7 separate regions of the Homo sapiens genome follow, and all the other regions are reported to be linked to region 2. Evidence: microRNA targets listed by miRTarBase, many of them from high-throughput screens and not tested one by one. Region 2 holds a microRNA gene; each other region holds the end of a gene's coding sequence.
The links. The annotated mature microRNA hsa-miR-8485 reads CACACACACACACACACGUAU and lies in region 2 at 2,525-2,545, shown strand. An mRNA with a match to its seed (bases 2 to 7 or 8) in the 3' UTR can be bound and repressed. Matches are read on the target gene's strand: a 7mer-m8 pairs with bases 2 to 8, a 7mer-A1 pairs with bases 2 to 7 and ends in A, and an 8mer does both.

Region 1: the mRNA of CISD2 is a reported target of hsa-miR-8485. Seed matches in the 3' UTR shown: 7mer-m8 at 1,039-1,045, 7mer-m8 at 1,041-1,047, 7mer-m8 at 1,043-1,049, 7mer-m8 at 1,045-1,051, 7mer-m8 at 1,047-1,053, 7mer-m8 at 1,049-1,055 and 7 more.
Region 3: miRTarBase lists NMRK1 as a target of hsa-miR-8485. Seed matches in the 3' UTR shown: 8mer at 2,925-2,932, 7mer-A1 at 2,917-2,923, 7mer-m8 at 2,910-2,916, 7mer-m8 at 2,908-2,914, 7mer-m8 at 2,906-2,912, 7mer-m8 at 2,658-2,664 and 15 more.
Region 4: miRTarBase lists RTL6 as a target of hsa-miR-8485. Seed matches in the 3' UTR shown: 7mer-m8 at 3,120-3,126.
Region 5: miRTarBase lists PET117 as a target of hsa-miR-8485. Seed matches in the 3' UTR shown: 7mer-m8 at 3,572-3,578, 7mer-m8 at 3,570-3,576, 7mer-m8 at 3,568-3,574 and 7mer-m8 at 3,566-3,572.
Region 6: miRTarBase lists RHBDL3 as a target of hsa-miR-8485. Seed matches in the 3' UTR shown: 7mer-m8 at 2,873-2,879, 7mer-m8 at 2,871-2,877, 7mer-m8 at 2,869-2,875, 7mer-m8 at 2,867-2,873, 7mer-m8 at 2,865-2,871, 8mer at 2,850-2,857 and 2 more.
Region 7: the mRNA of TMEM30B is a reported target of hsa-miR-8485. Seed matches in the 3' UTR shown: 7mer-m8 at 2,613-2,619, 7mer-m8 at 2,611-2,617, 7mer-m8 at 2,609-2,615, 7mer-m8 at 2,607-2,613, 7mer-m8 at 2,605-2,611, 7mer-m8 at 2,603-2,609 and 10 more.

Annotation. Positions count from the first base shown.
Region 1 is chr4:102,887,017-102,891,074 of GRCh38, forward strand. CISD2 (CDGSH iron sulfur domain 2) reads left to right here. Exons shown (of 3, transcript NM_001008388.5): 3 at 325-4,058. The coding sequence ends at 414. It also overlaps a transcript of SLC9B1 not described here. Among named protein-coding and RNA genes, the nearest start is that of CISD2, 20 kb to the left of the region's middle.
Region 2 is chr2:50,694,650-50,698,716 of GRCh38, reverse strand. It overlaps MIR8485 (microRNA 8485), which reads left to right and starts at 2,455; the gene lies at 2,455-2,545. All of the region lies in intron 5 of NRXN1 (neurexin 1), which reads left to right.
Region 3 is chr9:75,058,234-75,062,300 of GRCh38, forward strand. It overlaps NMRK1 (nicotinamide riboside kinase 1), which reads right to left. Exons shown (of 9, transcript NM_017881.3): 9 at 2,344-3,334. The coding sequence ends at 3,315. Among named protein-coding and RNA genes, the nearest start is that of NMRK1, 28 kb to the right of the region's middle.
Region 4 is chr22:44,493,607-44,497,673 of GRCh38, reverse strand. RTL6 (retrotransposon Gag like 6) reads left to right here. Exons shown (of 2, transcript NM_032287.3): 2 at 1-4,067. The coding sequence starts at 118. The coding sequence ends at 837. Among named protein-coding and RNA genes, the nearest start is that of RTL6, 2.6 kb to the left of the region's middle. RefSeq lists enhancers at 770-1,547, 1,548-2,325.
Region 5 is chr20:18,141,908-18,145,974 of GRCh38, reverse strand. It overlaps PET117 (PET117 cytochrome c oxidase chaperone), which reads right to left. Exons shown (of 2, transcript NM_001164811.2): 2 at 2,806-3,767. The coding sequence ends at 3,618. KAT14 (lysine acetyltransferase 14) reads right to left here. Exons shown (of 11, transcript NM_001392073.1): 2 at 3,056-3,767; 3 at 624-742. The coding sequence starts at 3,314. Among named protein-coding and RNA genes, the nearest start is that of PET117, 6.1 kb to the right of the region's middle.
Region 6 is chr17:32,320,936-32,325,002 of GRCh38, reverse strand. It overlaps RHBDL3 (rhomboid like 3), which reads right to left. Exons shown (of 9, transcript NM_138328.3): 9 at 344-4,045. The coding sequence ends at 3,774. It overlaps LOC124903980 (a long non-coding RNA gene), which reads left to right. Exons shown (of 2, transcript XR_007065711.1): 2 at 229-444. Among named protein-coding and RNA genes, the nearest start is that of C17orf75, 19 kb to the left of the region's middle. RefSeq lists an enhancer at 1,494-2,373.
Region 7 is chr14:61,276,395-61,280,461 of GRCh38, forward strand. It overlaps TMEM30B (transmembrane protein 30B), which reads right to left. Exons shown (of 1, transcript NM_001017970.3): 1 at 976-4,067. The coding sequence ends at 3,698. It also overlaps a transcript of PRKCH not described here. Among named protein-coding and RNA genes, the nearest start is that of TMEM30B, 2.9 kb to the right of the region's middle. RefSeq lists an enhancer at 3,406-4,067.

The DNA.
Region 1 (4,058 bases), not on the chromosome of region 2:
GCAATAGGTGAGCTCGAATTTTAAGCTCCACAAATGACCAAGAACTTATTCGATTCCCTTTTAAACCTGTTGTCTATTTTAATCACTCATATGGACTCATTCATAGGTTTTTATTTAAAATCTAAACCAAATAATGAAGTAACTGTTTAAATTGTTAGATTTTGAATATGGTTCAGTTGGATGTAGAATGTAACTATTACTCAGGAAAACGATCTGATTTTTTTTAGCAAGTGATATGCTTTCTTTCTGAGAGCATTTCACAAATGTTTCTACCTAATGAATCATATTTTAAAAATAACACTTGTAATTCTTTTTTCTTTTTAGTTTCCTGCCTGCGATGGTTCACATAATAAACACAATGAATTGACAGGAGATAATGTGGGTCCACTAATACTGAAGAAGAAAGAAGTATAATAATAATAACAATATTTTCTCATTCTTTGTGTATAGAAAATTTTAAAATGGTGGTCTTAATTATTACTACTGGTTGAACAATTATTTCTTCCAATTTATTTTCTTCCTGCACTACTGTTTGTATTTGATCCTTTGTCTATTCAGTCACTTAATTAGAAATTAAATTGTCAAGCCTCTTATTCTGACTTCAAAGAATTAATGTATCTTCCAACAATAAAATCACTTCTGATTTTAATCTAGGAAAACCTAAATTGTGGCTATGGATCCAAAGCTGTTTGTTTCTTTGAATATCAATATTTTCAACAGGATCTTGTATTTAAAATTCCCACCTACATTGTTAAATATGTTATTTTTTCATATCTCTTTTGGTTTTGATAATCTGAAGTGTTTTTTTCTCGTTTTGGCCTTCCAAACTGCATTTGGTTAGGTGAATTAAGAAAAATATTGCCATCAAGAATTACTTGTGTTTTCACAGAGATAGACTCTTTGCTTTATAGAGATTGTTGTGTATTTAATATGAATATCCCAGCTTTAGAAAAGAAGTAAACTGGATACAAAAAGTTCCATTGAGGAACAGTTATTTACAGTATAAAAGATTTGTTTACTTTACAAAAGGCTTGTGTCTGTGTGTGTGTGTGTGTGTGTGTGTGTGTATTTTAAACTGACTCAGTGACAGCTGGGGTGGAATGGCAAGAACACTTACAACCAAACTCATGGGCTGCTGCAATTTGAAGATAATTGGTAATAAACATAAGACATTAATTCATATTAAAATAGTTCAGTGTTCAAAATTGTGTTTATGTGGATATTTTTCTCTTTTTAACACTATAAACCATTAAAATACAGTCATCCCTTGTATACGCTAGGGACTGGTTCCAGGGCCACACATATACCAAAATCTGCCCATACTCAAGTCCCACAGAAAGTCTTGCAGAACCCATATGTAGAAAAGTTGGCCCTCCAGTTGACCCTCCGTACACATGAGTTTCACATCCCATGCACAAATGCTGATCTGTGTGACCTCACCTGCATTTGATTGAAAAAAGTATGCGCGTAATTGTACCCACCCAGTTCAAACCCGTGTGTAAGGGTCAACTGTACAAAAAAGTTTGTGAAATAAACGTACTGGAGAATCTTTAAAATTTTTGTGCTTTTTAATCCTACTATTATGAATCTTTTTAGTTTCATCTTACATTACTACTCTCATAATAGCTATCCTTAGCCAGGTGCCATGGCACAGGCCTGTAGTCCCAACTGCTGGGAAGATTGAGGTGGGAGGATGGCTGCAGTACAAGAGCCCAGGAGTTCAAGGCCAGGCTGGGCAACCTAGTGCTCCGCCTCTGCTGGGCTCTGTAGGGAATCCTTTCTGTTGTAAAAGAGTTACCATTTAACTCCCTTCACTGAGTGCGTTTCTGAGACCTTGCTAGGCACTCTGGAAACTGCTTAGTTGAGAAAAGACAAATACAAAAGCTTTTCTTTAGTCTATTTAAGATACAGTTTATTCAGTTCACTTTGCTTTCTTTTTATAAGAATGTACAAGAGGCAGACAGAGGTAATCCTTCTAGAAATAAAACTAATTGTTATTGGGCACTTGTATGTACCAGACACTACACTAAGCATGGTACTTGGGTTTTTAATTTATTACATGTAATGTCAGTAGGTTCAATTATATGATCGTAACATCTTCATGACCAGCAGCATGTATTTTAGAGTTAGAAATGTAGTCTGGTTTTTGAGAAGTTTTACAAGGTGTATGTCCAAAATTGTTCTTTCCTCACATGTCAGTGGGGGATAAATACAGCATTGCTCTCACTTCTTTGACTCTGGGTGCTTTTTCGGATACATTTTCTTCAACACTGTTAAGGGGCCTCACTGTCAGATTAACCAATTATTTTTCCACAGTTGGTCACCAGACTTTGGAAAAAATCCACCTCACCAAAATTTTGGATATCCTGATCTGTGTTCATGAAATGCTCTTCTTTTTGTAAAATCTATCACTGCATCTCACAGCAACTTGTTTTCACACATGTTCTAGTGGTTCCCATAACTTAGATTTTACAGGAGGCAAATTTACTAAAAATGAGGAGACTAAAATGAATGACCAACTTTGAATTTTGTCAAATAACATTGAAAATGAATTATCTCATAAAAGGTAATTTTAATACCCCAAAAGTAAGATGGTTGTACTCTCAGAATAAAGACTTTTTCCCTGCCACATTTTCAGTTGTTAAAATATGCTAAGAGCTATGCCCATATCTTTTCCCACCTGTGCACATTTTTCAGAAGCGTAGGGTTGGTAGTAAGCTGTTGCTTTAATAACTCCTTTAAATAAGCATTATTAGCAGTTTGCATTACTTCTTGTAAATTTACACAATTTTATCTTGTCCATCTTTAAAAAATAGACATCTAATAACCAAATGTATTTGAATTGATGCAGTGTAAGTAACTTGTAGAACTTGAGGATAAGTGGTAAAAGAAAAAAAAAAGTAACTTGGCTCTTGAAATACATGTCTTCGGTTTCTAGAGCCTTCAAAATACAGCCCTGTTGTTACTGCGTCACATGATTGTTTTGAGGACTGCTTCTGCTTACCTAGGAAACTACTCATGCCTTACTCAGCAAATGAACATCACTATTACATAAACATCAGGTATCCAAAAGTGTTAGCAGGCTTGAGGTATGAATGATTCATTCATATGGGTAATTAAGCAAGTTGAATTATGGAAAGCACCTCACAATTCACACAATTCAGCTTTGAGTTCAATGCCAAATACGATGATTCATTAAGTTGACTTTGTATTTTGTAACCTAATTTGTTAATAAGTAAGTTACAGGAAGCCAATTAAGCCAGCTGCTGATCTATATAGTACTACCTTCCTCATTGTGATTCCATAGTCTTCCAATAGAAATGTGCTGTCAGAATCTGTATAGAGAGTTTGTAAATGCCACTATTTAACAAGGTTCTTAAGAATTTAGGTGGATGTTTTATTTGATACCTACCAAAGAAGCCTAAGTAATTGTATAATACTTAACCCATTTAGAATTCAGTTGTGGCAGCATAACCAATCTGGAGAGACCAGGGGAGATGTTACTAATGCTTGTACTTTATTCAGAAATGAGTGCCTCATTGGCTTGGTGCAGTGACGACACACCTGTAATCTCAGCACTTTGGGAGGCTGAGGTGGGTGGAGTACTTGATCTCAGGAGTACCATACCAGCTTGGGCAACGTGGTGAGATCTCATCTCTACAGAAAAATGCAAAAATTAGCCGGGCACAGTGGCGCACCAGTAGTCCCAGTTACTCGGGAGGCTGAGGCACAAGAATCTCTTGAGTTGAGGAGGCCAAGGTTGCAGTGAGCCAAGATTGTGCCACTGCACTCCAGCCTGGGCAACAGAAGTGAAACCCTATCTTAAAAAAAAAAAAAGTCTTTTTTTTTTTTCATCTAATCAAATTTATTGTGGCAGAAATCAGTACGAAGTTCGTAGGACAGGAGGAAACCAATATAAATATCTCAGCATTGTAGGAAATTTAACCCATGGAAAGCAGGGGTGAATTAAAGACCACTTTGAAGGCTGGGAAAAGCAGATAATTTAGATATAGTCAAAGTATGAAATCATTGATAGATCCAGAACAAGGAAATGATGT
Region 2 (4,067 bases):
GTTGATGAGATTCTGTTTCAGTGGTTTTCACATTTTTGGATTCAAGATCCCTTTTTACTTTTTAAATGTATTGAAAACCTCTGAGAAGTTTATGTTTGTTGTATAGGTTATGTATATGTATTAGTGTTTACTCTATTGAGAATTGACTGAGAAAACATTTATATATTTATTAATTCATTTTAAAATAGCCACCACATTGCATGTTGCATGTTAAAATAAATTGTGTACTTTTATGAAAAATAATTATATTCCAACACTAAGATAATTTTGTGAGAAGAGTGACTTATTTTACATTATTGACAATCTCTTTGATGTTTGGCTTAAGAGAGCTAGATTCTCACAACTACTTCTGCAGGCAATCTTTTGTGATAGCATATATCCTTTGGCCTCTAGACAGCACCGTTGTATATTTGTGAGATGATGAAAAAGATTTTGGCCCTTGGCCCTCCCGAAAGTCTCAGGGACTACCAAATGTCCTTGGACAACATTTGAGGACTTCTGTCTTATACTGTCAACGAATATCTACTGAGCACCTACTAAGTGCCAGCACTGCTGTACGGGTGGGAAGTACAGGACAAACAAGACCATGACCCTGCCCGCACAATGTTTACTTTCTCATGAGAGAAGGAGGATTCTAAAGTGAAACAACTAAGATGATTTCAGATAATGATAGGTGTTATGAAGAAAATTAGACTGGTATTAGGATGAACTGTAGTGTAGATGGGGTTGTGTTGTTATTTAGAGCCAGATTAACGAAATTGGCTCAAGGCAGTGACTTTAAGTGAGAGTAGCAGGAAGTGCAGCCGTGTGAAGAGCTATGGAGAGCTGTCTACTTTGGGGGAACAGCTGGTACAAAGCACCAAGGTAAATTGAAGAGTTAAAGGAACAAAAGTGCCAACCTGGAGGCAGAGAAAAGAAAGAAAATGAAACAAAGATGTGGGCAGAACCTATTTTATTTGAGGCCTTGTAGACCATGGCAACCCAGGATTTGAATTATATTCTAAATATTATTTGAGGATTTGAAGAAAAGAATGATGTAATCTAATTCACATCTTCAAAACATCACCATAGTTGAGAAGTGAAGCATGGGCTACAGAAGAGCAAGGAAGGGAGAGAGGAGACCTTTCAGGGGAGTGTCGCGTTAGGTTCGGATGAAACCACAGAGGAAGTAACAGGCAGTCATTACGTTCAAGATGAAGGTACAACTGACAAAACCAATACATTAATTTTCCTTTCAGTCTGATTAAAATCCATTTCTCTATCTGACCATTTCTCTAACTTGTCAAGTTTCACTTTGAAAGATGCTCCAGTATTTCAAGGTCTTAACACTCTTTCCAACTTTTGTCACACACAAATTTAATGAGCATCCTCTCTCTTAGACATCATTGTAGCATATTAATCATATACTGTCCTAACTTACCTTATCAGCTTGTGACAATGAGTCTTTTCTAAAAAAACTTTTCCTGTATATTCAAAATGAAGACTAATGAAGTTTATTTATACAAGCTAAAAATATAACACTCAGAATTACGTGTGCAAAATATTCCCTGTAAAGTATATTTTATTTCTCTTTTTCACTTCCCATCTGCCCCTTCCAAATACATCTTTGTCTTCTGGTTGTTGAGAGGTTGCAGGGTATTCATATTGTCTTATTGCTGGTACAGTAGGACGTTTGTGTATGACCCAGCTTTGTTTGTTAAGGTGCTTGAAGTAAGTAATATGCTCTCAATGAGACAAAAGCAACAATTTGGAAACAAAAGTGGAAATTAACAATGCCACTGGTTTCTGTTTAAAGAATTTATGTATCAGGCTTTCATTGTGAATAAACTCAGTAAGCAGCTACTCAAATGATGTGATTACATGGTCTAGGAATATACTCTTGGTCTCCAAAATGACTTCTCTATGACTCCTGGTAGTATATGAAACTTAGTAATTAACACTTTCTACCATTTAAATCAAATAAATATGTTTATCTCTGTGAAAATTCAGGTATTCTTAAGAGAGCCTCACTGATCCTCACCCGAAAATTCATGCTTTGGTTTTAATGGGTGTGCTTGCTGGTTTCTCTACAGAGAGCTGCTTTGACAGTTGCAAGATAAAAGAAGAAATAGTTGCTCAGAACCACAAAGAAAATAAATAGACATTGGAAGAAGAGGCATAAACAGTTTTCTCCGCCTGCTTCACCCCATTGCCTTGGCTTTTCTTGTCTTTCTTCTACCTTATCACGACCTTCTTTAGCAAACTATGATTTAGCTTAGAGGAGAAGCATGTTTAAAGAGTTGTAAGACAGGTTTTCTTTTCTAACTCTCCATCAGAATATTACTTACTTCTGAGACTGTTTTTCTTATTTATAAGAAAGGAGATTTATAACACTGTCAGCTATCTGTGTGAAGAATTATGTACATTTCAAATTCTCATTTTTTCATATGTATAGAACATTTTATGGTCTTCAGTTCTGTGATATACGTGTGTGTGTGTGTGTATATAGCATATGTGTATACATACACACACACACACACACACACACACACACACACACACGTATATGTACTGTCTTTTAAAATTTCCATAGTCGACTGGGTGTGGTGGCTCTTGCCTGTAATCCTAGCACTTTCGGAGGCTGAGGCGGATGGATCACCTGAGGTCAGGAGTTCAAGACCAGCCTGCCCAACATGGTGAAACCCCATCTCTGCTAAAAATACAAAAATTAGCCAAGCATGGTGGTGGGCGCCTGTAATCCCAGCTGCTTGGGAGGCTGAGACAGAAGAATCGCTTGAAGCTGGAGGGCAGAGGTTGCAGTGAGCCAAGATTGTGCCACTGCACTCCAGCCTGAGTGAAAGAGCGAAGCTCCATCTCAAAAAAAAAAAAAAAAAAATCAGAGTCACTCTGGTTAGGCTTATTTCCCTAATCCTTTGGAATATTAGTAAAACTGAGGCTCAAAAAACTAATGCACAAAGTCATATGGATAAAAAGCGATATCTAACCATTTATCTTCAACTCTTCCTACTATAGCACGTCGACATTTATTACCGTGTTCTAGATAAAAGCCTTCTTAGAACTATTAACATATTTCACATATTTTAATCTCTCAAATTTTGTTTCTCGTTTTGTACAATAATTTGTGCTCCTAGAGGAAAGCAAAGACTTAGTCTAATCTCTTTGTCAAATGGAAATAGACTAATGTTACTTACTATGAATAAGAGACTATATCTCTGTCCCTAGCAAGATGTCTCTGGCTAAGGGATTACCCATAGTTAATAGAACCCAGGATCTATGAGGCAGGGCTACCTGGAGCATATGACATAAGGTACACCACTTTATGTTATATGATGCACCTTATCTGAACTTGATAGCTTATATCCTTGAAATTATTTAGCAAAGCTTGATGCTGGGCAAGATCTTTAATTCATGTGAGTCTGATTTGACAATCTAATCCTCACATTTGTCGGTAAATAATACAATTAAAATATTCTGAAGGAATCTCAAGTACAAATACCAAAGATAAGATGCCTTCCCCCCACCGCCACCCCCTTACCCAGGTTGAAATGTTACTGATAAAATATGTTGGTAAATAGTCTCCCTACTGCACTGGTGAAATCAAAGCCACCCTTAAGCAGTGAAGATGGCTAATTTAATTTCAGTAGTTATAAATCAAAATTAAGCCTAGGAAACTGGACCCATAAATGGCTGCAGAGAATCCAGCTGTGTTTATTCTAAAGGCACTCCCAGATCAATTTGCATGGAGGTGATTTGGCTATGAGATAAGGGAACTGTCTTTCAGCCCCATCAGTTAGAACAGTCACCAGGATCTAAAGTACCCAATCAAGAGAATACCCCGCAATTAATTTTTTATAAGCCAAGGAAAGACTATTGCTAAAATGTAGAATAAAGCCTTTATTTTGTAATGATTACTTTTGTTCCAGAGAGCATTTTCTGGATTAAATATGAATATTGGGGATAAAAGGATTAACCGATTTTACCTCAAATTCAGTAAGATAAAGAATGTAACCTCCACCTACTCATAATCAAATCAATTGATTTGTTCTTTGGTAGAATTGGTTTGATTT
Region 3 (4,067 bases), not on the chromosome of region 2:
TGGGATGCAAGGCTGGTTCAACATATGCAAATCAATGAACGTAATCCATCACATAAACACAACCAATGACAAAAACCACATGATTATCTCAATAGATGCAGAAAAGGCCTTCGACAAAATTCAACAGCCCTTCATGCTAAAAACTCTCAATAAACTAGGTATTGATGGAATGTATCTCAACATAATAAGAGCTATTTATGACAAACCCACAGCCAATATCATACTGAATGGGCAAAAACTGGAAGCATTCCCTTTGAATACCTGCACAAGACAAGGATGCCCTCTCTCACCACTCCTATTCAACATAGTGTTGGAAGTTCTGGCCAGGGCAATCAGGCAAGAGAAAGAAATAAAGGATATTCGATTAGAAAACGAGGAAGTCAAATTGTCCCTGTTTGCAGATGACATGACTGTATACTTAGAAAACCCCATTGTCTCAGCCCAAAATCTCCTTAAGCTGTTAAGAAACTTCAGCAAAGTCTCAGGATATAAAATCAATGTGCAAAAATCACAAGCATTCCTATACACCAATGACAAACAGAGAGCCAAATCATGTGTGAACTCCCATTCACACTTGCTTCAAAGAGAATAAAATACCTAGGAATCCAACTTACAAGGGATGTGAAGGACCTCTTCAAGGAGAACTACAAACCACTGCTTAACAAAATAAAAGAGGACACAAACAAATGGAAGAACATTCCATGCTCATTGATAGGAAGAATCAATATAGTGAAAATGGCCATACTGCCCAAGATAATTTATAGATTCAATGCTATCCCCATTAAGCTACCAATGACTTTCTTCACAGAATTGGAAAAAACTACTTTAAAGTTCATATGGAACCAAAAAAGAGCCCGCATCGCCAAGACAATCCTAAGCAAAAGGAAAAAAGCTGGAGGCAGCACGCCACCTGACTTCAAACTATTCTACAAAGCTACAGTAACCAAAACAGCATGGTACTGGTACCAAAACAGATATATAGACCAATGGAACAAAACAGAGGCCTCAGAAATAACACCACACATCTACAACCATCTGATCTTTGACAAACCTGACAAAAACAAGCAATGGGGAAAGGATTCCCCATTTATAAATGGTGCCAGGAAAAGTGGCTAGCCATATGTAGAATGCTGAAACTAGACCTCTTCCTTACACCTTATACAAAAATTAATTCAAGATGGATTAAAGACTTAAATGTTAGACCTAAAACCACAAAAATCCTAGAAGAAAACCTAGGCAATACCATTCAGGACATAAGCATGGGCAAGGACTTCATGACTAAAACATCAAAAGCAATGGCAACAAAAGCCAAAATAGACAAATGGGATCTAATTAAACTAAAGAGCTTCTGCATGGCAAAAGAAACTACCATCAGAGTGAACAGGCAACCTACAGAATGGGAGAAAATTTTTGCGATCTACTCATCTGACAAAGGGCTAATATCCAGAATCTACAAAGAACTCAAACAAATTTACAAGAGAAAAACAAACAACCCCATCAAAAAGTGGGCAAAGGATATGAACAGACACTTCTCAAAAGAAGACTTCTATGTAGCCAACAGACACATGAAAAAATGCTCATTATCACTGGTCATCAGAGAAATGCAAATCAAAACCACAATGAGATACCATCTCACACCAGTTAGAATGGTGATCATTAAAAAGTCAGGAAACAATAGATGCTGGATAGGATATGGAGAAATAGGAACACTTTTACACTGTTGGTGGGACTGTAAACTAGTTCAACCATTGTGGAAGACAGTGTGGTGATTCCTCAAGGATCTAGAACTAGAAATACCATTTGACCCAGTGATCCCATTACTGGGTATATACCCAAAGGATTATAAATCATGCTACTATAAAGACACATGCACATTTATGCTTATTGCGGCACTATTCACAATAGTAAAGACTTGGAACCAACCCAAATGTCCATCAATGATAGACTGGATTAAGAAAATGTGGCACATATACACAATGGAATACTATGCAGCCATAAAAAAGGATGAGTTCATGTCGTTTACAGGGACATGGATGAAGCTGGAAGCCATCATTCTCAGCAAACTATCACAAAGATAGAAAACCAAACATTGAATGTTCTCACTCATAGGTGGGAATTGAACAATGAGATCACTTGGATACAGGGCTGGGAACATCACACACCAGGGTCTGTCGGGGGTGGGGGGCTGGGGGAGGGATAGCATTAGGAGAAATACCTAATGCAAATGATGAGTTGATGGGTGCAGCAAACCAACATGGCACATGCATAACTATGTATCAAACCTGCACATGGTACACATGTACCCTAGAACTTAAAGTATATATAAAAAAAAGATTGAGATGGTTGTGTGTAATCTTTTTATTAATAAGCAAAAGATTGTTCAGTACATAATTTAAATTCCAGCATTGAAAGCAGCCTCAAGAGATCACACAATTCAGATCTCCTTCTGTGCTTTCCAAAGATAGGTCCCCTGGATTCCACATGATTGAAGTAATTGCTTATTTCTGTGATTTTAGACCACTGGTTTGACAAAAACAAAATGAACCACGAGGGGGGAGAAAGAAACCAGAAACCCTATTTGTAACAAAGTCTCAACAATGAGATACAATGGTATTAGATACACGCCAACACACACACACACACACACACACACACACACACACACTCAACAAAATACACAAATAATCCTAGATCTTGTAGCGAATTGTTGATTTATTCATTGTGACTGCAGCTCCTAGTAATGCTATTATTTGCAGGTGGTGAGTGTTGGTATGGGATGGTATGGAGCAACATTTTCCAAATTGTGGTTGTGATCAATATGTTTTTTATAATTAAAGACGGAAAAACATCACAGTGCATAATATATAAGGTCAATGTCTTGTGATACTTGATGTATGTATGTATCACACACACACATACACACCTACACACAAATACATAAACATACACAATGAATTCCACAGATATTGGATTGTGATGTAATCTTTATTTCTTACTCTGAGCTCCAGTTAGAAAAGTTTGACAATCATTGTTATAGAGCTATGTTCAGAAAGTGGAGACTTTCTGACTCACTGTGAGCTCTGCTGTATCTATGCGCTCCCTGGAGAGGGAGCAACTTGCTAAGGTACAGTCCTGTCCATTGGCATGGATATTTATTGTTCCACATGTTGGGAAAACCATGTGCAATAAAAATCAAACATATGAAACAATGGCTGTCATTGTACCACAGTATACATTGTATCTTGGTGAAGGTTCTTAAATTACTCCTTGGAGTTTCCTAATTCACTTCAGGAAGGATTTGTTGTGTTCCGTCTTTATGCTGTCACTTGCAAACCTTGGGAATAAACATAAAAAGAAATTAATGGAGAATTCCAATTCTCATTTTATTAAATCTTTACATCAACAACAGTAAATCTAAGGATGTTTAAATTAGAGGGATTCTGGAGCCAAAAATGCTGGTTTCCTGTAAAGAACTAAATTGAGTCCAAGTCCCATTCTTTTAATCCCTGCATTAAATTTGAAGCATACCTTAAAATATCAGATAGATATCCAATATCACTTGTAGTTCGTATAGTAATCCTTGACTTCAGAGAATGATATAGTTTGAAGACTAGAATAAAACCACAAAGGGTAGTTGTCTGCAGTATAATCCTTGTTTTGGAGTGTTATCCTTGATGTGGGGAAAGTATTGTTACTTTAATCCCTTTTCTTAAACGAAGGAAGCCCAGTGGAATACTTGATTTGGCATAGAAATTCAATGATAAACCTACCACATTCTTATTACACAGCTGATGTTGCAAAGCACACATTTTTTGGGTAGTATTTCATTTTTGAAATATGTAAAATGTAAAAATGATTACATCCTTTGACTACATAAGTGACACTTCTGGGAATTTACTCCAGGGATATAATTCAAAAAGAAGACAACCAACAAAGAGTAGGTGTAGATATTTTTTATGGCATGTGATATATCCATGTGAAACACTTGTAACAACAGTAAATATCCAACAATTGGGAAATGGTTAAGTGATCTTATGTTAATTTGGACTACTGTACCAGATAATTAT
Region 4 (4,067 bases), not on the chromosome of region 2:
CGCAGCGCCCTGCCGTCGTGCACCCCACACTGCCCCCATTTCTACAGGGGCCCACCTGGTCACCACACCCTCTTGGTCCACCCGCGGATCTCAGCGTGTGGCTGACCTCTGGCCAGCATGGTGCAGCCGCAGACGTCCAAAGCTGAAAGCCCAGCCTTGGCAGCGTCTCCGAATGCCCAGATGGATGACGTTATTGACACCCTGACCTCCCTGCGCCTCACCAACTCGGCGCTGAGGCGGGAGGCTTCCACCCTGCGGGCGGAGAAGGCCAATCTCACCAACATGCTGGAGAGCGTGATGGCAGAGCTGACCTTGTTACGCACCAGGGCGCGGATCCCGGGGGCTCTGCAGATCACCCCGCCCATCTCCTCAATTACTTCAAACGGGACTCGACCCATGACCACACCTCCAACCTCTCTGCCCGAGCCCTTTTCCGGGGACCCAGGCCGGTTGGCGGGGTTCCTGATGCAGATGGACAGATTCATGATCTTCCAGGCCTCCCGCTTCCCGGGTGAGGCCGAGCGTGTGGCCTTCCTTGTGTCTCGACTGACTGGGGAGGCGGAGAAGTGGGCTATCCCCCACATGCAACCTGACAGCCCCTTGCGCAACAACTATCAGGGGTTCCTGGCAGAGTTGCGGAGAACCTACAAGTCTCCGCTCCGGCATGCGCGGCGCGCCCAAATCAGGAAGACTTCTGCCTCTAATAGGGCTGTGCGAGAGAGGCAGATGCTCTGCCGCCAGCTGGCCTCTGCGGGCACGGGGCCTTGCCCAGTGCATCCAGCTTCCAACGGGACTAGTCCAGCGCCAGCCCTGCCTGCCCGAGCACGGAATCTTTAAGAATCCGCCAGCACTTGGTAGCGTCTGCAGCCACCCAGGTAGCATACGCTCTTTGCTGTGTAGAAGAAATGCCCATACGACAGCTTTGCCCCTGTTTGAAGACCTCCCTTCTTGCCTCTCCAGACGTGTTCCCCGAGGAGATCTTCCTTCCGTCCTTCCTGGCGCCCTGGTTGCCCACCTTGCCGTGCTTCCTCTTACGTGCTAGCTTTGTACCTATCGCTCACTGCATGCTCGCCTCCCTCTTGCTGGCATCCCGGCCTGTTTCAATGACTACCGCTCTGCTACTTAGGCACAGGGACTCCGCCGCACGCTGACGGACCACGAGGGCTGACCCCTTCCAGCCTGACTTGGTTCATGGAGGCTCCTACTCTGCCCTCTCCAAGCTCCCCTGGCGGCTCCCCACCTGGTTGCCCAGTTCCTATTGATGAGCTCTGGACAGAAAGATGCCCGTTTGGCCAGGCTGGTGGCTTGATGGGTGTACCTGGAGAGGGGGTCTGGCTTCCTGCCCAAGATGCCTCCCAGCCCTGCCAGGGCCCGGTGCAGCGGGCAGGGCCTCATCTGTGCTGTAGTGGTCGAGTGGTTGCTGCAAGGAGCGTAGTTCTGCCATGTCTGGGGGCCAGGTTCCACTCTGCACATGAATATGCAGTCTGGGAGGCCCCACTGCTCTCACTGGGAAGGACCAATGTTGCACCTCTGTTAATGCCTGACTTCAGCTGCTGGTGTTCTGATGGAGCCAGAGGCTTGGGGAATCTGGAACTTGCCTGCTAAATAAGGTCGTGGTGGACTCTCAGCCATTGGGCAGGTCTATCAGGCTGCAGGTTCCTACACACCCACGCCTGAGGGTCATAGCAGGCTAAGGGTGGATACCAGCGACTCCCTTTGCTGCCCAGGATCTCCATGGGCAGTGCCACAGCGGCTGATGCTCAGTCACTCCTGCTTCTACCCCCTGTCACTGATGGCGAGCCTTGCCCAGCTTGAGACCTGTTCCCATCTCTATTCAGGTGCCATGTGGCCTTCACTGCAGCCCTGCAGCCACCCACGCACCATCTGTGGGTCTCCAAAGGCACCTTGTAGCATGTACTCCCCGTGCCTGGGCAATCAGATGGGCTGCCTTTGTCCAAGGGAAAACAGACTCCCTTCGGGAAACATCCTTAAGCACTTAAGGCCGGGGGGGGTGTCTGCCTCTGGCAACCCAGCCAGGGTCTTGGTGGCATTTGTAAAAGCAAAGAGCTGTGGACTGCCGTGGTCCTAGTGTGGTGACAATGCAGCACTGGCATGCATGTCCTCCTTCTGAAGGACCTCATCCTTCCTCACAGGGGGATGACCAAGAAATCATTTTGTGGCTGAGTTTGGCCACGCCCTTTGGACTGTGCTGTTCCGCCATATTTCAATGCCAAATGAACCACATTGACATGACCTGGACCATAGGGCTTCCTATCCTGGGCTCAGCTGCCCCTGTCTGAAGGGTCTTGGCTTGATTGCAGAAGGACAACCTCCGCACCCACCTAAAGACATGTATATGTCTTGGGATCCCAGAGATTGGGTCCTTGGGCCTGGCTTCTTAAGAGTTTTGATGATGCTGGGAAAAGTGACTGCGATTCTGAAGAACCGCTGCCTTGCAAGGTCAAGGACATTCAGTGGTTGCTGGGGTCCGCAGACTACTGCCACCCACTCACCATCAACTCTGTTAGCCCAATTGCCCTGCTGAACAACTGCCTGAATACAGGCTTTAGGTTCCCCTGGACTCCAGCCAAGGCTGTTCAGGTGGGACCATGGTGCTCTTTAAGCGTGATCGGAGGGAAGACACACAGCAGGGCCACCATTCCATGAATGGGAGGTGTACAGATCACTTTCTCTTTGTGCTCAGTTCTGTTCTGTCTCCAGCAGCTATATTGGTAAGACTAGTACCTGCCAGGGAGAGGTGCCCCCAAGTGAAGGGGTACAGTGGCACCTGGGAAAAGGCACCTGGAAGGTTTCCATGTGGCCCAGCCCAGCATGGAAGCAGGGTGGGAACTCTGCTGTGTCGCCAGCGCTCACTCTACTCGAGTGGCTTTTTGAAAGCCCTACCATGTCTGTGTCAGGCCTGTGCTGCTTCACATCCTACAGCTGCCTAGGAAAGGCCGGCCACGCTCCCTGTCCACACACTCCCTGTCCACACACTCCCTGTCCACACACTCCCTGTCCACAACTGCAGCCGGGCCCTCTGCCTATGGGCACCCAATCCAAGCAGCTGCTCCACCTTTGTTTGGCATGGTGATTTGTGTTTTTTCTCTTGGTGCTTATGTGTGTGGGCTTGGGACGAGTGCTGGTATGCACTTAGGACCTTCTTGATAGCTCCCTGCACTTTGGAACACGGAGCAGATGAGAGAGGGTCGGGGCTTGCCCTCCACCTTGGACTTGGAAGAAGCCCACATTGGAGAGGTGAGGACCCCATGGTGGCTCTAGTGGAAGATACGTTAGTCTCCAGCTAAGGAGGATGAGGCGCAGCCCCAGAGGGAGACCTCAGTGATAGGGGATCAGGCTAAGAAAGTGGGGGAAGGGAGATGCTTTGTACATATTTTGGGGTTATAATTTCTCTAAATTTTAGGAGAACGGGTATTGATTGATAAAAGGGACAGGCAGTAGTGTTCAACAGTGCATGTGAAGGAAAGTTCTGTTTTCCATGGTTTTGACATTCTTTGGACTGTATTGTGACTGCTGTCTGGTCCACATGGTACCCCTTTGGTAAGTAGGCTTCAGTGCATACCAGGGTATCACTGGAGATGGGAGTTAGTGAAGGGGTGACTCCCTGGCCTAGTATAGTGTGACCCTGGGACTAACTTAATGTCCTAAAGCATTTTGGTGACTTCTAGGGAATAGCAAAGACCTATTTCATTGTCCCCAGGTAAGTATGTGATGAGCAATGAGGAGGAGTGGAAAACAAAACCCAGAAAGTGCGGCAGGACCAGCCTGACGCACACGCTCCTGTTGTCATGGCAGACAGCCGCCTTGGGTGGGCACCACCCTGGCAGTTCCAGCCTGTAGGGGAGTGAAGGGACATGGCTGAGCTGGGCATGTGCTGAGGTTGACTTAGGGAACAAGCCCTGGGATTGGACAAAAGGGCCCATGCTGCAGCCACTGACTGGGGGCAGAGCTCTGGGTGGAAGAGGGAAGAGATCCTAATGGAGGCGCCTCCATCTGCAACCACAGTTGTAAGGCTCATGGCACCTCTGCTTGGAAAGCACTGGTTT
Region 5 (4,067 bases), not on the chromosome of region 2:
ATCTATTTTCAACATAGCCATCTTTCCACTTTAAAAAAATAGTTTTATTGTTCTTAAAATGGCTGCCAGGAAAATGAGAATTTCATTTTCAATTATAATCAGAGCTTGGTATCACATATAAAAGAAATCATGAGATTCTCAAGCCTCTCAAGCCCAATTCACCAAGTCAGCAGTGAATATATTTTTTTTTTTTTGAAAAGGAGTCACACTTTGTCGCCCAAGCTGGAGTACAGTGGCACGGTGTGGGCTCACTGCAGCCTCCGCCTCCCAGGTTCAAGCGATTCTCCTGCCTCAGTCTCCCAGGTAGTTGGGATTACAGGGGCCCACCACCATAGCCAGCTAATTTTTGTATTTTCAATGGAAATGGGGTTTCACCATGTTGGCCAGGCTGGTCTCGAAGTCCTGACCTCAGGTGATCTGCCCGCCTTGGCCTCCCAGAGTGCTGGGATTACAGCGAGTATTTTTCACTCCCTTCTCCACATATTCGGTATCTAATTTCATTGCGAAATAAAAAGTGCCCCTCCAAACAACTCAAAAGCTCATCCCTAAGTTTCTAGATATTCGTTCCAACAAACTCCTGGGGGAACCACCCTCATGGATTTGGGGAAGGGCTTTTTACTCACTTGCTGCCATGTCAGCTTCAGCCTTTCATACTGCTCCTTGCCATCTGCTGAGCAATCCGAACAAGTAAACCTAAAAAAATTATCACCCTTAAGGTAACTGAGCTGTTCCCTCAGCTGACCTAGGAGAAAAACAAAAAGTCACATCATGGGTTTATCTAGAGCAGCGGTAACCTAAAGGTTTAATCCGTTTATCACCCAGATTTTCCTTTCCCATGTTGTCTTCTTTTCTTCAGCCAACCCACAATTGCAAAATGGGGAAAAGGAAGGGAATTAGAAAGATTTCTATTCTTCTAACACCAAGTATACGCCCACTAAGATCTGTAGGATCCAGTAACTTTTAGGAGAAAGGTACTGGAAAAGCAGGTATTGTTGCTGGATTTCCCAATTGTCACATTCCTGACTCCCAGAGGCAGGTCTCTTCACACATTCTTTCAAAAAATATGAGCTCCCTCTGCATACCAGGCACTGGGCTAGGAACTGGGAATACAAAGTCCAAGACAGATAATGGTGCCTGATCTCACAGGTTTGCACTTCCCTGAGGGCTGCATAGAAAACAGGTGATCACAACAACACAGTGGTTCTCCATGCTCACAGTGCATTGGAATCACCCAAGTTGTTCTTGGTTTTCTAAATATGCTTGATTCTAGCCCAGATAAAATGCATCAATTTCTGAAGCAGAGCCTAGGAGTTACATTTCTTAGTCCCTCAGGTGATGCTGATGCTCTGTGACACATAAGGAATGGAATGTGCTGTGTACCACAGGGCAGTGTGAGGGTAAATAAAAGGAGGCCCAACCTATATTAGGGGGAGGCTTAGGATTAGAAATTGGCCAGGTGAAAAGGGGTCTCTTTGTGTATAGGGAGAATGGAGGCTGTGGAGATGCATATTCCAGAAGAAAAAAACTGTGCAAAGCCCTAAGGATAAGAATTGTTTGTGAAGAATAAGTTCACCCTAACTGCAAAGTTGTGTGGGAATCAAAGAAACTACAGTTAGCAGGGTCCTGACCACAAAGGGTAGCTTAAAATTTGTCCTCAACAGGACAAAGGGAAAGCCACTGAGAATTCAGGCAGAACCTGAAATCAATAACAGAGACCGCTCAGAAGCAAAAACCAGCTAACTAGTAAATTCTGCATTTCCTGTGAAAATGTTACTATTAATTTGTTAACAGTGACTAAATTTGAAGTTGAACCCATTTTAAGAAAAACATTTCCACATGCCAGAAAATGACCCTCTTCACAGTTATATATGTATTTCTCTGACTTGGTTACAAATTATATTACACAAAGGCATTCCTCAAGTACCTATATCTTTACTAGTCTCTTGCCTAATGGGAAAATCCTGTTTCGGTATAAACCATATGATGGCTGGCAAGCCATACTCCTCAGGTGCCAGGAAGCTGGCCATTGAAAATCTCAAGATCAGGGCCGAGCACAGTAGCACATGCCTGTAATCCCAGCACTTTGGGAGGCCGAGGCGGATGGATCACCTGAGGTTGGGAGTTTGAGACCAGCCTGACCAACATGGAGAAGAAACCTCATCTCTACTAAAAATACAAAATTGGCCGGGCATGGTGGCGCATGCCTGTAATCCCAGCTACTCGGGAGGCCGAGGCAGGAGAATCACTTGAACCTGGGAGACGGAGGTTGCAGTGAGCCAAGATCATGCCATTGCACTCCAGCCTGGGCAATAAGAGGAAAACTCCGTCTCAAAAAAAAAAAATAAAATAAAAAAAAAAATTAGCCAGGTGTGCTGGCAAACACTATAATCCCAGCTACTTGGGAGGCTGAGGCAGGAGAATCGCTTGAACCCAGGAGCCGAGATCATGCCATTGCACTCTAGCCTGGGCAACAAAAGCAAAACTCCATCTCAAAAAAAAAAAAGAAAGAAAAGAAAATCTCAAGATTGAGGCAATCAGGGAGTGTGTATGAGGTATCTCTTGCCAGCAGAAAAAAAGGAAAATGGAAAAAAAGACTGGTCCTAGAAAAAGGGCAAAAAACACCTTCAATCTGCTAATTCTAACCTCTTTTCAGTATACAATAGCAGGAGTTCTCCACGTAAGTTAAATATTAACAAAGTAATTTTTATAAACTTGAACATGAATTCAACACTGGGACTGGAATTTGGCCCTAAATCTCTGTGACCTTGTTAGAAAAATATGGCTAATTCTTTAAGTAACACAGGATTTCCAATTTTCTCAATTTTATTGAGTTACCACCAAAAGTGTTAATTTAACAATGTGATAGAGGTTGACAGTACGTTTCATTAGTACAAACATGCCTATGTTTTATATAAATTTATAGCTGATCAACTAGAGAATAAATATAATTATCCTTTTATTTAGGTCTCTTTTACATTCACGTTTCTTTCACAGGTTGGAAAAACAAACCTTCACACAGGAATTGACAAATCAAAGGAATTGAGAAGCTCCTTACTGGCTGGTATCCATTTTTGGCACTTGTCACAGAAGTAGGACAGCTGCTCCTCCATCCAAGACACGTCTCCTTCATCACTGTTGAGGGAATCCCCACTCTGGTCGTGCGATAAGTCCACTGATGCCTGATCCTCGGATTCGACGATCAGGAGCGTCTCTCCCTCCACTTCACCTTCCTCCAGTCCTTCTGAGGTCGATGTTCTCGTGGCTTCGTCATCATGCCGACTGATCAGACTACTCAGGTGGATGCTACTATCCATCCCTTCCTTCTCACAAGCTCGGCAGTGCTTCTCAGTAACAACCCTAAGCACTGGACAGTGACCCTAATGGGGCTTCTACCAGGATCACCCAGACAGACTCTTCCAAAAAGTGTCTGCCCACACTCCTTTATTCAGATATAAGGGACCCTGAAAGCAGTAACTTATATGACCCACTGTCCTTTATTTGATCAAGTTTAAAAGGACAGTGACCAAAAAAAAAGATGAAGATACTACTAAGCTACTCTCCATCAACACACACACACAAACTCGTGTTGTCTGTCCAACAGATATTTCACATTCAAGTCATGATTTTTGAGATCCTTTTGCCAATAACATCTTCTCTCTTTCTGCTTCAAGTTGCTCAGTCAAAATAATCTGTTCTCCCAAAAGACGAATGTTTTCTTTTTTCCGAATTTGCCTCTCAATGTCTCTGATAACTCCGTCACGAAGCCTCTAAAAACGTAAGAAACAGATTTCAGTAACATCCCGAACAGGTGGTCCCCATCCTTGTGCCATTCAAATCCAAATAACAGTGTTACCAAAATATACTTAAAACTTTCAGATTCCAAATACCCAGTTACTATTTTAATTTTCTGTACAAATGTAAAATGTAATAAACGATCAAATAAATTTGGTAGTGTGCTAAATGTTATTACTGAAATGATTTCTTATCATATTTTAAGAAATTCCTGAACATTTAGTACAGAAAATTTAATGGGAAATAACAGAAAAAAAAAACTGGCACTATGTTAA
Region 6 (4,067 bases), not on the chromosome of region 2:
TGGTCTTGAACTCCTGACCTCAGGTGATCCACACGCCTCGGCCTCCCAAAGTGCTGGGATTACAGGCGTGAGCCACCATGCCCGTCCTACATACACATTTTTATGGGAAGAGAAATCACAGCTTTCATCAACCACTCAAAAGAGTTCAGTGATTTGAGAAAAGTTAAGTAAGATGCACACAGCTACAGACTGGTGCTAAGCACTGATGCCCCAATCTGTATTTTATAGAAATCCTGGATCCACCACCGCTGCTGTTCACCCTCTCCCACCCATCCTGACCCAGACCCAGATGAAACAGGCCCTAATGCCAGCCCTTCAGGTCACTTCCTGAATAACCAATGGCTTGGAAAAAGAAAAAAAATATTTAATGGAATCTGTGCTCAAATAATATGTTACAACAAAAATATACAGAATGTACACAATACAAAAATACTTAGAAACAAACATTGCAGTCTGTGTTTTGTTTTTTCCACTTACTCAAGTCCTCGGAGGGGCAGTTCACTGTTGGGCACTGTTTTTAAGGCAGAGGAGAACCGTGCTTTCCAGCCAGCACGGGGAGCAACATGAATGATGCCAGGAAAGGCTTTCACGGCACCCAGGGAATCTGCATTACGTATTTGCAAATTAAATTGGACGCTGGGGGAAGATCCTGGTGTGGTGAGCAACAGCTCCCCTAATCCTCTGGGCAAGAATGGTTCTCATGGAAATCGAGAGTCCTATTAGCTGGCAAAAGAGCCTCATTAGGGAGCTTTTCCTAATTAAAAAACGAATGATGAATGGTGTCATTAAAGCGAAATTTCTCCTTTGAAGGTTTGTTTTCCCTTCCCCAGTTTCTGTGATTCCTCTCCCGTTTAATGAGAGCCAGTGAGTCTATGGCTGCTGTTTGGGGATTCCCCAGCTTTCAGTTTCTGTATCCTGTGGATAAAAGGCCAACCTACCTCCACCAGCCTGAAGATTTACACACCACCCCCTGGGCTGGCAGCCACCTCAGACAAGGAAAGAGGCACAGAGGACACGGCCAGCCTTGGCCATGGGGAAGTGCTGCTGAGAGGGTGGTGGGACCTGCTGAGGAGAAAGCCAGATGCCACAAAGAGAACCCCTCTGACCAGACAGCTGCCTCCTGACCTGGGGAGAGGCCTGGGTCAGGTGAAGTGACCCTATGACCCCACCCTGTGGCCCCGCTTGGAAGTCATGGTTGGGAGAGGGGATGGAGGTGGGTGTGCTGACAGAGAACAGCTGGGGCTGGTGGTCTAAGGTGTAGACGAGGGTCCTTGGCAGCAGAGGACACACTTAACATGGTGGGAGACACGATTCCGCCTCCACTGTCCTTCTCAGTAACAAGCTTCCCTGGGAGTCCCCGAGGGAGCTGAGTGCTTCTATGAGGGATTTCTAGAATCTTCTAGTTCAATGCTTTCTCACCCCTAAGAGAGGAAGCCCCCTCTCCAGGTCATACCAGACAGAGGTGGCACTCTGCTCATTCCACCCACACCACAGAATCCCCAGGGGCCAGGACAGGAATCTGGAGGGGATTCTCCATCCCTCCAGGAAAGGACCTCATCGCTCAGCTTAGTGCGGCTGCAGCCCAGGCAGAGGCAGCAATGTCCTGACTCCTTCTGCATCCTCCCCTGGTCTTCCCTGAGCCCAGCTCCACAGCCTCAGAGCCTCCTCCTCTGAGGCACTGACTTCCATCTACATCTTTCTATCACTAGGGCAGAGAACGGTGGGCAGGGCACACACAAGACGCCCCAGGCTGACGCAACACCGCCAAAGGCGTGGGCCCACAGTGCCACAGGCTGCGGCCCTCAGCATGGCACTGGTGCAGGGGAGCAGGACCTAGGGAACTACATATGTGGATGAGGCCAGGGCAATCTATTTAGCAGTGGGCCAAGATGCGGTATGGCTGGGCCTCGCCTGCCAGTGAGTGAGTGAGCCCATTTACATGTAGTCACCAGGATGGGAAGCCACTGTGGCCCAAGACCCCAAATGCCTGGCCTGACTGACCCTGGACCCTGCTACACTCAAGGGCCAGGATGGGCACCAGGCTGGAGGAAGACCGTTCCCACACTCCTGCCCCTGTTTCTGGACACGCCCAGCCCCCCTGCCTCCTCCCAGGCCTGGCGTTCTTTGTTCTTCTGGGCTGTCAGTGGTTGAGAATTCCAAGAGCACGATAAAGGGAGTGTCATCTTTTGTCAAAGGTCATCCTCATGCCCTCCATTCGGGGCCTGCACCAGCTCCTGTTAGGAGGGTCATTCCCTCCATCTTGTTTTCTCACCTGTGTAATGGGGTGGGGTGGATTTGATAACCACCATGTTCTCTCCCGCATCCAAGCCTCCGAGGCTACTGGCTGCCCTCCCTCTGAGGTTCATCCATGCACCCAACAATTCTCCTGAGGCAAAGTTTTCCAACTAAACTGGAATTCCTCTTCCTGTAGCCTCCTGTCCCCCTAACTTAAATGGACACATGGCCTCAACATTCCTACCCCAGCCTCTCTTGCGCCCCCAAAGCTCTTTCTCTCCTAAGGGAGATAGGATGGAACCTTTTTGGATATGAAGGCCATCTCAGACGGAAACAAGAGCTGAACCTGGCAAACCTCAGCATCCAGGGATCCTTGGAGGGCTTGAGCTCTCCCTCCAGCAGGGCCATTCTGCCACCGGTCAGTGATGCTCAGGGGCAGGTGTGGAAGGGACAGGAGATGGGAAGGAAGGGGGCAGGCTTTGTCAAAGCAAGGACATTCAGCAACCACAGCACACCACGGTCTGCCACCTCTCACGGATGCCCACATGGGCCCCCTGCATCCTCCATGCCTTCTCTGCAGGCGCTGTCGTGCCTCAGTTACCTTTCCCATCACATACACACATATACGCACACACACACACACACGCATGAATGTTTCAAAACACTGTCTCCATAACCAAAGAGAGGCACAAAGTAGTGTCAGGGCAGCAAAAGGAAAGAAAAAGACCCTAAAACAAGGCTGGGCATGGAGGCTGGGGCACCCGTGTGAGATGCCAATATCCTGGAAGAAAGGGAGGGAGAAGTCTGAAGCTGGTCCTGGGTCTGTCTTCTCCAGGGTGGAACTTGGAATGAAGTTTATTCCCCCTGCATGGGTCCCTCTCACTGGGTACCCCCAGCACAAGAGGGGTCCTAGAGCCTACAGGCTCCCTGCTCTGCCCAACCCAGGCACAACAGATCATGCCCCGGTGCACACCAACCAGCCCAGGAGGGCACCCTGGTTTCAGCCAGGTCACAGCTGACATGTCCAGTAGGCCCTCTTCTTACTGGAGCCCCAGACACAGCAGGTGTCAAGGAGACACCACATGGCCTGCAATTATTTCTGAGCTAGAGAGGGGCCATGCCTGGACGCAACAACCTTCGAGCCTTCCCATGTCTCTTAGGGTCTCTGAGGGTAGAGGAGGAGGAAGAAGCTGCTGCTCAATCCGCAGCAGTGAGGGGGCACCCCCTGGCCCCATGGAAGAAGCCCAGCCCAGGTGAGGGAGGGCCACTCTCACACCCCACCCCAGACCTTCACCCTGGCCCGATGTCATCAGAGCAGCCGAGAAAAACGACAGCAGCCACATCAACTCCTCCGCCAGATGCCTTTCAGAAAAGGGTCTCCACTGTGTGTCCAAATCTAAACACAAACATTACAGTGGCCCAGAGTCTTCTGTCCTTGTCTGCCCGGCCTAGCTGAGCTGGTGATGAGAAGAAACCTCGCAGGCGCTCCCTGTGGGTGCTGCTTTTCCCTCCCCTCCCCGACCTTGGGCCTCCAGCCCTCAGGGGGGAGGCGGCAGCTTTAAGTCCAGCAGGGTGTAGGCAAAGATGTTCCAGAAGACAGCGAACAGCACGAAGACGGTGTACATGGCCACAAAAATCCACCACAGTGACTGGTCCTGGAGCCTCTGCTCGTAGTTCCTCAGGACCACCACGCCCAGGGTGATGCCCACGGCCACGCCACCCAAGTGCGCCACAAAGCTTGGGTGAGGGCACGGGGGATAGGCCGACGGGTGGAAGCGGAGCCACACGGCCCGCCCAAACTCCATGCTCACTGCAAGGGGAGGAAGCAGAGA
Region 7 (4,067 bases), not on the chromosome of region 2:
ACCCAGGCTGAAGTGCAGTGGCATGATCTCGGCTTACTGCAACCTCTGCCTCCCAGGTTCAAGCAATTCTCCTGCCTCACCCTCCTGAGTAGCTGTCACTACAGGCGCCCACCACCACACCTGGCTGATTTTTGTATTTTTATTAGAGGCGGGGTTTCACCATGTTGGCCAGGCTGGTCTCGAACTCCTGACCTCAAATGATCCATCCACCTCGGCCTCCCAAAGTGCTGGGATTACAGGCATGAGCCACCGCACCTGGCCGGGAATTTACTTTTTGATTACGTGTATGCCCTTGGACTTCTTATATCCAAGGAACTAGTTGATGACCTTGCAGCTCTACCAGCAACTTAGAGAGTTACTCAAGATTGTTGAGATCTCCTATGACAGGAAGACGGCAACAGACTTAAAGTAAGGTAGAAAGGGTTTTGATTATATATTATGAAGTGATATTTGCTCTAAAGGAAATTCCAGACTATTAGTCTGTCTCTGAATCTTAATAATTACATAGGCCGGGTTTGGTGGCTCACACCTGTAATCCCAGCACTTTGGGAGGCCAAGGCGGGCAGATCATTTGAGGTCAGAAGGTCAAGACCAGCCTGACCAACTTGGTGAAACCCCATCTCTACTAAAAGTATATAAAAATTAGCTGGGCGTGGTGGTGTGCACCTGTAATCTCAGCTACTTGGGAGGCTGAGACACGAGAATCTCTTGAACCCAGGAAGCGGAGGTTGCAGTGAGCCGAGGTTGCAGTGAGCCAAGTTCACATCACAGCACTCCGGCCTGGGCAACACAGTGAGACTCTGTCTCAAAAAAAATAATAATAACAATAATTTTATAGTGAGCAAATTGGTTAGTTGATTTGATTGTGGAGATACCTGGAAAATCTTTGTCATATTATTGTTTTAATTTTTTTTAACCATCTGAGAAAATACAGTGACATATTATTGTTTTAGGAGCTCTCACCAACTACTTTACTTTCTCTTTTATGCTTTTATTTTACAAAGTTAGGTCAAAGCTCATTTCCAGTCCAATTGTTGAGGTTCACTCTTTTCTATCTCACTTCCTGAAGATACTTCTAGCTAGTGAACATTTACTGGGCAACAAGGGAATTCAGGCCAACAAGAACCTGGAAGCCTGAGACACCAGACAAAATGTTACAGCACAGGGATCATTGCAGGAAAACGTTTCCCATTTCAGTTTTAAAGTTTCTGCTGCTTTGAAGTCCAAAATATCCAATAAATAATTGCAATTTATAATTGAAGTAAAATGCAGAAGACTACTACAAAAATTTTTAAATTGACATTTATTAAATTCAAACAGTATTTGAGGACTATCTAGTTTATATACATGTTGAGGTTGATAAAGTATTGAGGACTATCTAGTTTATATACACGTTGAGGTTGATAAAGTTCAAATTCTGTTTTAGGAAGTTAACAATGAATTGAGTTCATTTTAACTGAATGTTACTATAAAAGATGGTTTTCTTGCTGCAATGTAAATCTGCTATTAAGAAATTAGCAAAGTGGCTGGTGGTGTTTGTGCCTTTAAGATCATCGTTCAAAAGAATTCAGCAAACTCGATAACAAAGGTAAGACAAACATAACCTTTATTCTCTCTCAAAAACCCAGAGAACAGGGCCTGGAACCATATTCGTTAATTTAACCAGAATCAGAATACTTTAACTTTCATAGTCTCATTTAAAATTTTATAGCAATATACTGACCATTCTAAAAATAACAAAATACATGTTGCTCTCAACTACATAGTTAAAAAAGGTAGTAAATTCTCTTACCCAAAATAGAGGAGGGGTGGGCTAGTGAGCTGCTCAAACATTTGTAACAAATAAAAATGTATCTATATACATATAATGATCATGTTTTCATAGCCTAAAATCACCATACAAAATCTAATAATAAAATTGTGTCGTGTTCAGGAGTTGGGAAGCCAACACATTAAATTAACAAAGTATTTTTGGTATATGTAAATAATGGGATAGAATCTCTCGAATCAGGATTGTCCCAGAAGTTCTAAGGCAGATGTCAATGACATGCACATTGTCCATGTTCAGTAATTTTCAAAGACTAGAATAAACTATGTAAACTATTCAATACAATTCAATATTACTTAACTGCTAAAAAGTACTTCAAGATCTTGCACTGCCTTGAGTGAGTATAATCAAGTTAGTAATTGGAAAATAGCTGTAATAGCAGGCACTGAAGAATTCTGACAAATACCAAATAACTGTTTGTTTTTACCAAATAAACTGGTAAGATGATATCACAAAGGGTTTTAAGTTATTTTGCTATACAAGGTTTTTAAAAATAAACTATTGCTTCTTAGAATAACTTTAAACATACTGATTGATGTTAATCAATAAAATCAATGGAATGATTTTAGTTGAGTGTAAACTTCATCTCAAAGGTTCAAATAATCTTAAGAATCTAGTTTACATATAAGACTATATATGCTTTAACATTGATTCAAATATGATTACTAGAAATCAATAGATTTCATTTGAAAAGATAAAAAAAATTTTTTTTCCAGGTCCAAGGGAAAAGGTATGAATGAAGCCCTTTCTAATCACACACACACACACACACACACACACACACACACACAATGACAAAGAACACTGAGCTAGGAGACATAGATGTGACTTTAGGGAACTTACTTTCCCTCGAAGATCTCTTCCAGCTATCTGATTCTACGTTAAAGCATTTCCTCTGAACTGTACAAACTGGCCTCACATTTTCGAGTTTCTACACAGTACCTGGCAAAGTTTGCCTGTTGGCTTTTACACCAAAATACTAAAATATCAAATGAATCACATAAACCCTGTCCTACAACTCTGTATGCCAACTAGTTTTCCCCAGATAGTAATTTTTTAAAAATTCATTCCACAAATCATCAAGAGCTTCCTACGTTCAAGGCAGAGTGCCAGACCAAACCTGGAACATCATGGTTGTCACTGCCCCTGGGAACAAATTACTATCCGAAAAAGTGAATTCAGTTGACTGCTTCAGGCCCAACCTGGTTCAGGGTCGTGATTCCCAAATTTGAGGGAATATGGGACTCTCCAGTGGAGTTTGTTAAAACACAGCTTCGAGGATCTCATCCCAGCCTTACTGTGTCTGAATCTCTGTTTGGTGTCTCCTAATCTACCTGCATATTTAACAAGCATGTTCTCCCTCACGCCTCCACGTCTCTGCAGGTAATTTGTGGGCCTCACTCTCCATTCCAGCCCACTCTCCCCGACCAAAGAAAAGAAAACCACTGTACTGTAGTGGCGAAAGCCCTGGACTCAAGATTCAGGAGTCACTTGCAGCTGCCTGATCTTTGTTACTTCACATTGCTAGGTCTCTCAATCTCTTCCTCTAATAGGGGTTTAATAGGAGTCTCCATAGGGATCCCTTCCACTCTCAGACTTGAAGAACCTCACATGGCAACTCAGTGTCGTGAAGGAGGTGGGAAGAGTTTGCAAGGATGTTTCACTCTGCAGTCAACATCCCTCCCCGCGGCAAGACAGTCTAGCAGCCCCCCAAGAGCAAGGGGGGTAATTCCCTTATCTGGTCCCCTCATTCACAAAGGGAGGAAAAGCTAGGCGAGGTTGGAATTGGGTGACGGGCGAGGAGGAGATGCCAAAAGCACCTTGCAAGAGTTTTGGCAAGAAGCAGGAGGGATCCCTGGAAAGCCGGAATCACTCCTCGTCGTCGTCGTCCTGGTCCTGGTAGCGAATGTAGACGACCAGCATGACAAAGCCGGTGAGGATGCAGAGGGAGCCGACGACCAGGTAGGCGATGCCCAGGAAGGGGTTCTTGCCACCCATCCACGAGATGCTGCTGAAGATGAGGAGCTTGTGGCCGCCGAACGCGCGCACCGGGTAGTTGTAGGTGATGTTGACGCGGTAGGCGCCCCGCGGCAGCCCGGCCGAGTAGTTGCCCTGGCGGATGCGCGCGTACAGTTTGCGGAACGTGGGCAGCGCCGCCGTGCGCATCCACACCACGAAGTCCTGATTGATGAAGCCGGTGTTGTTGGGGTCGGGGCTGAGCTCGTAGACTGGCCGGCGC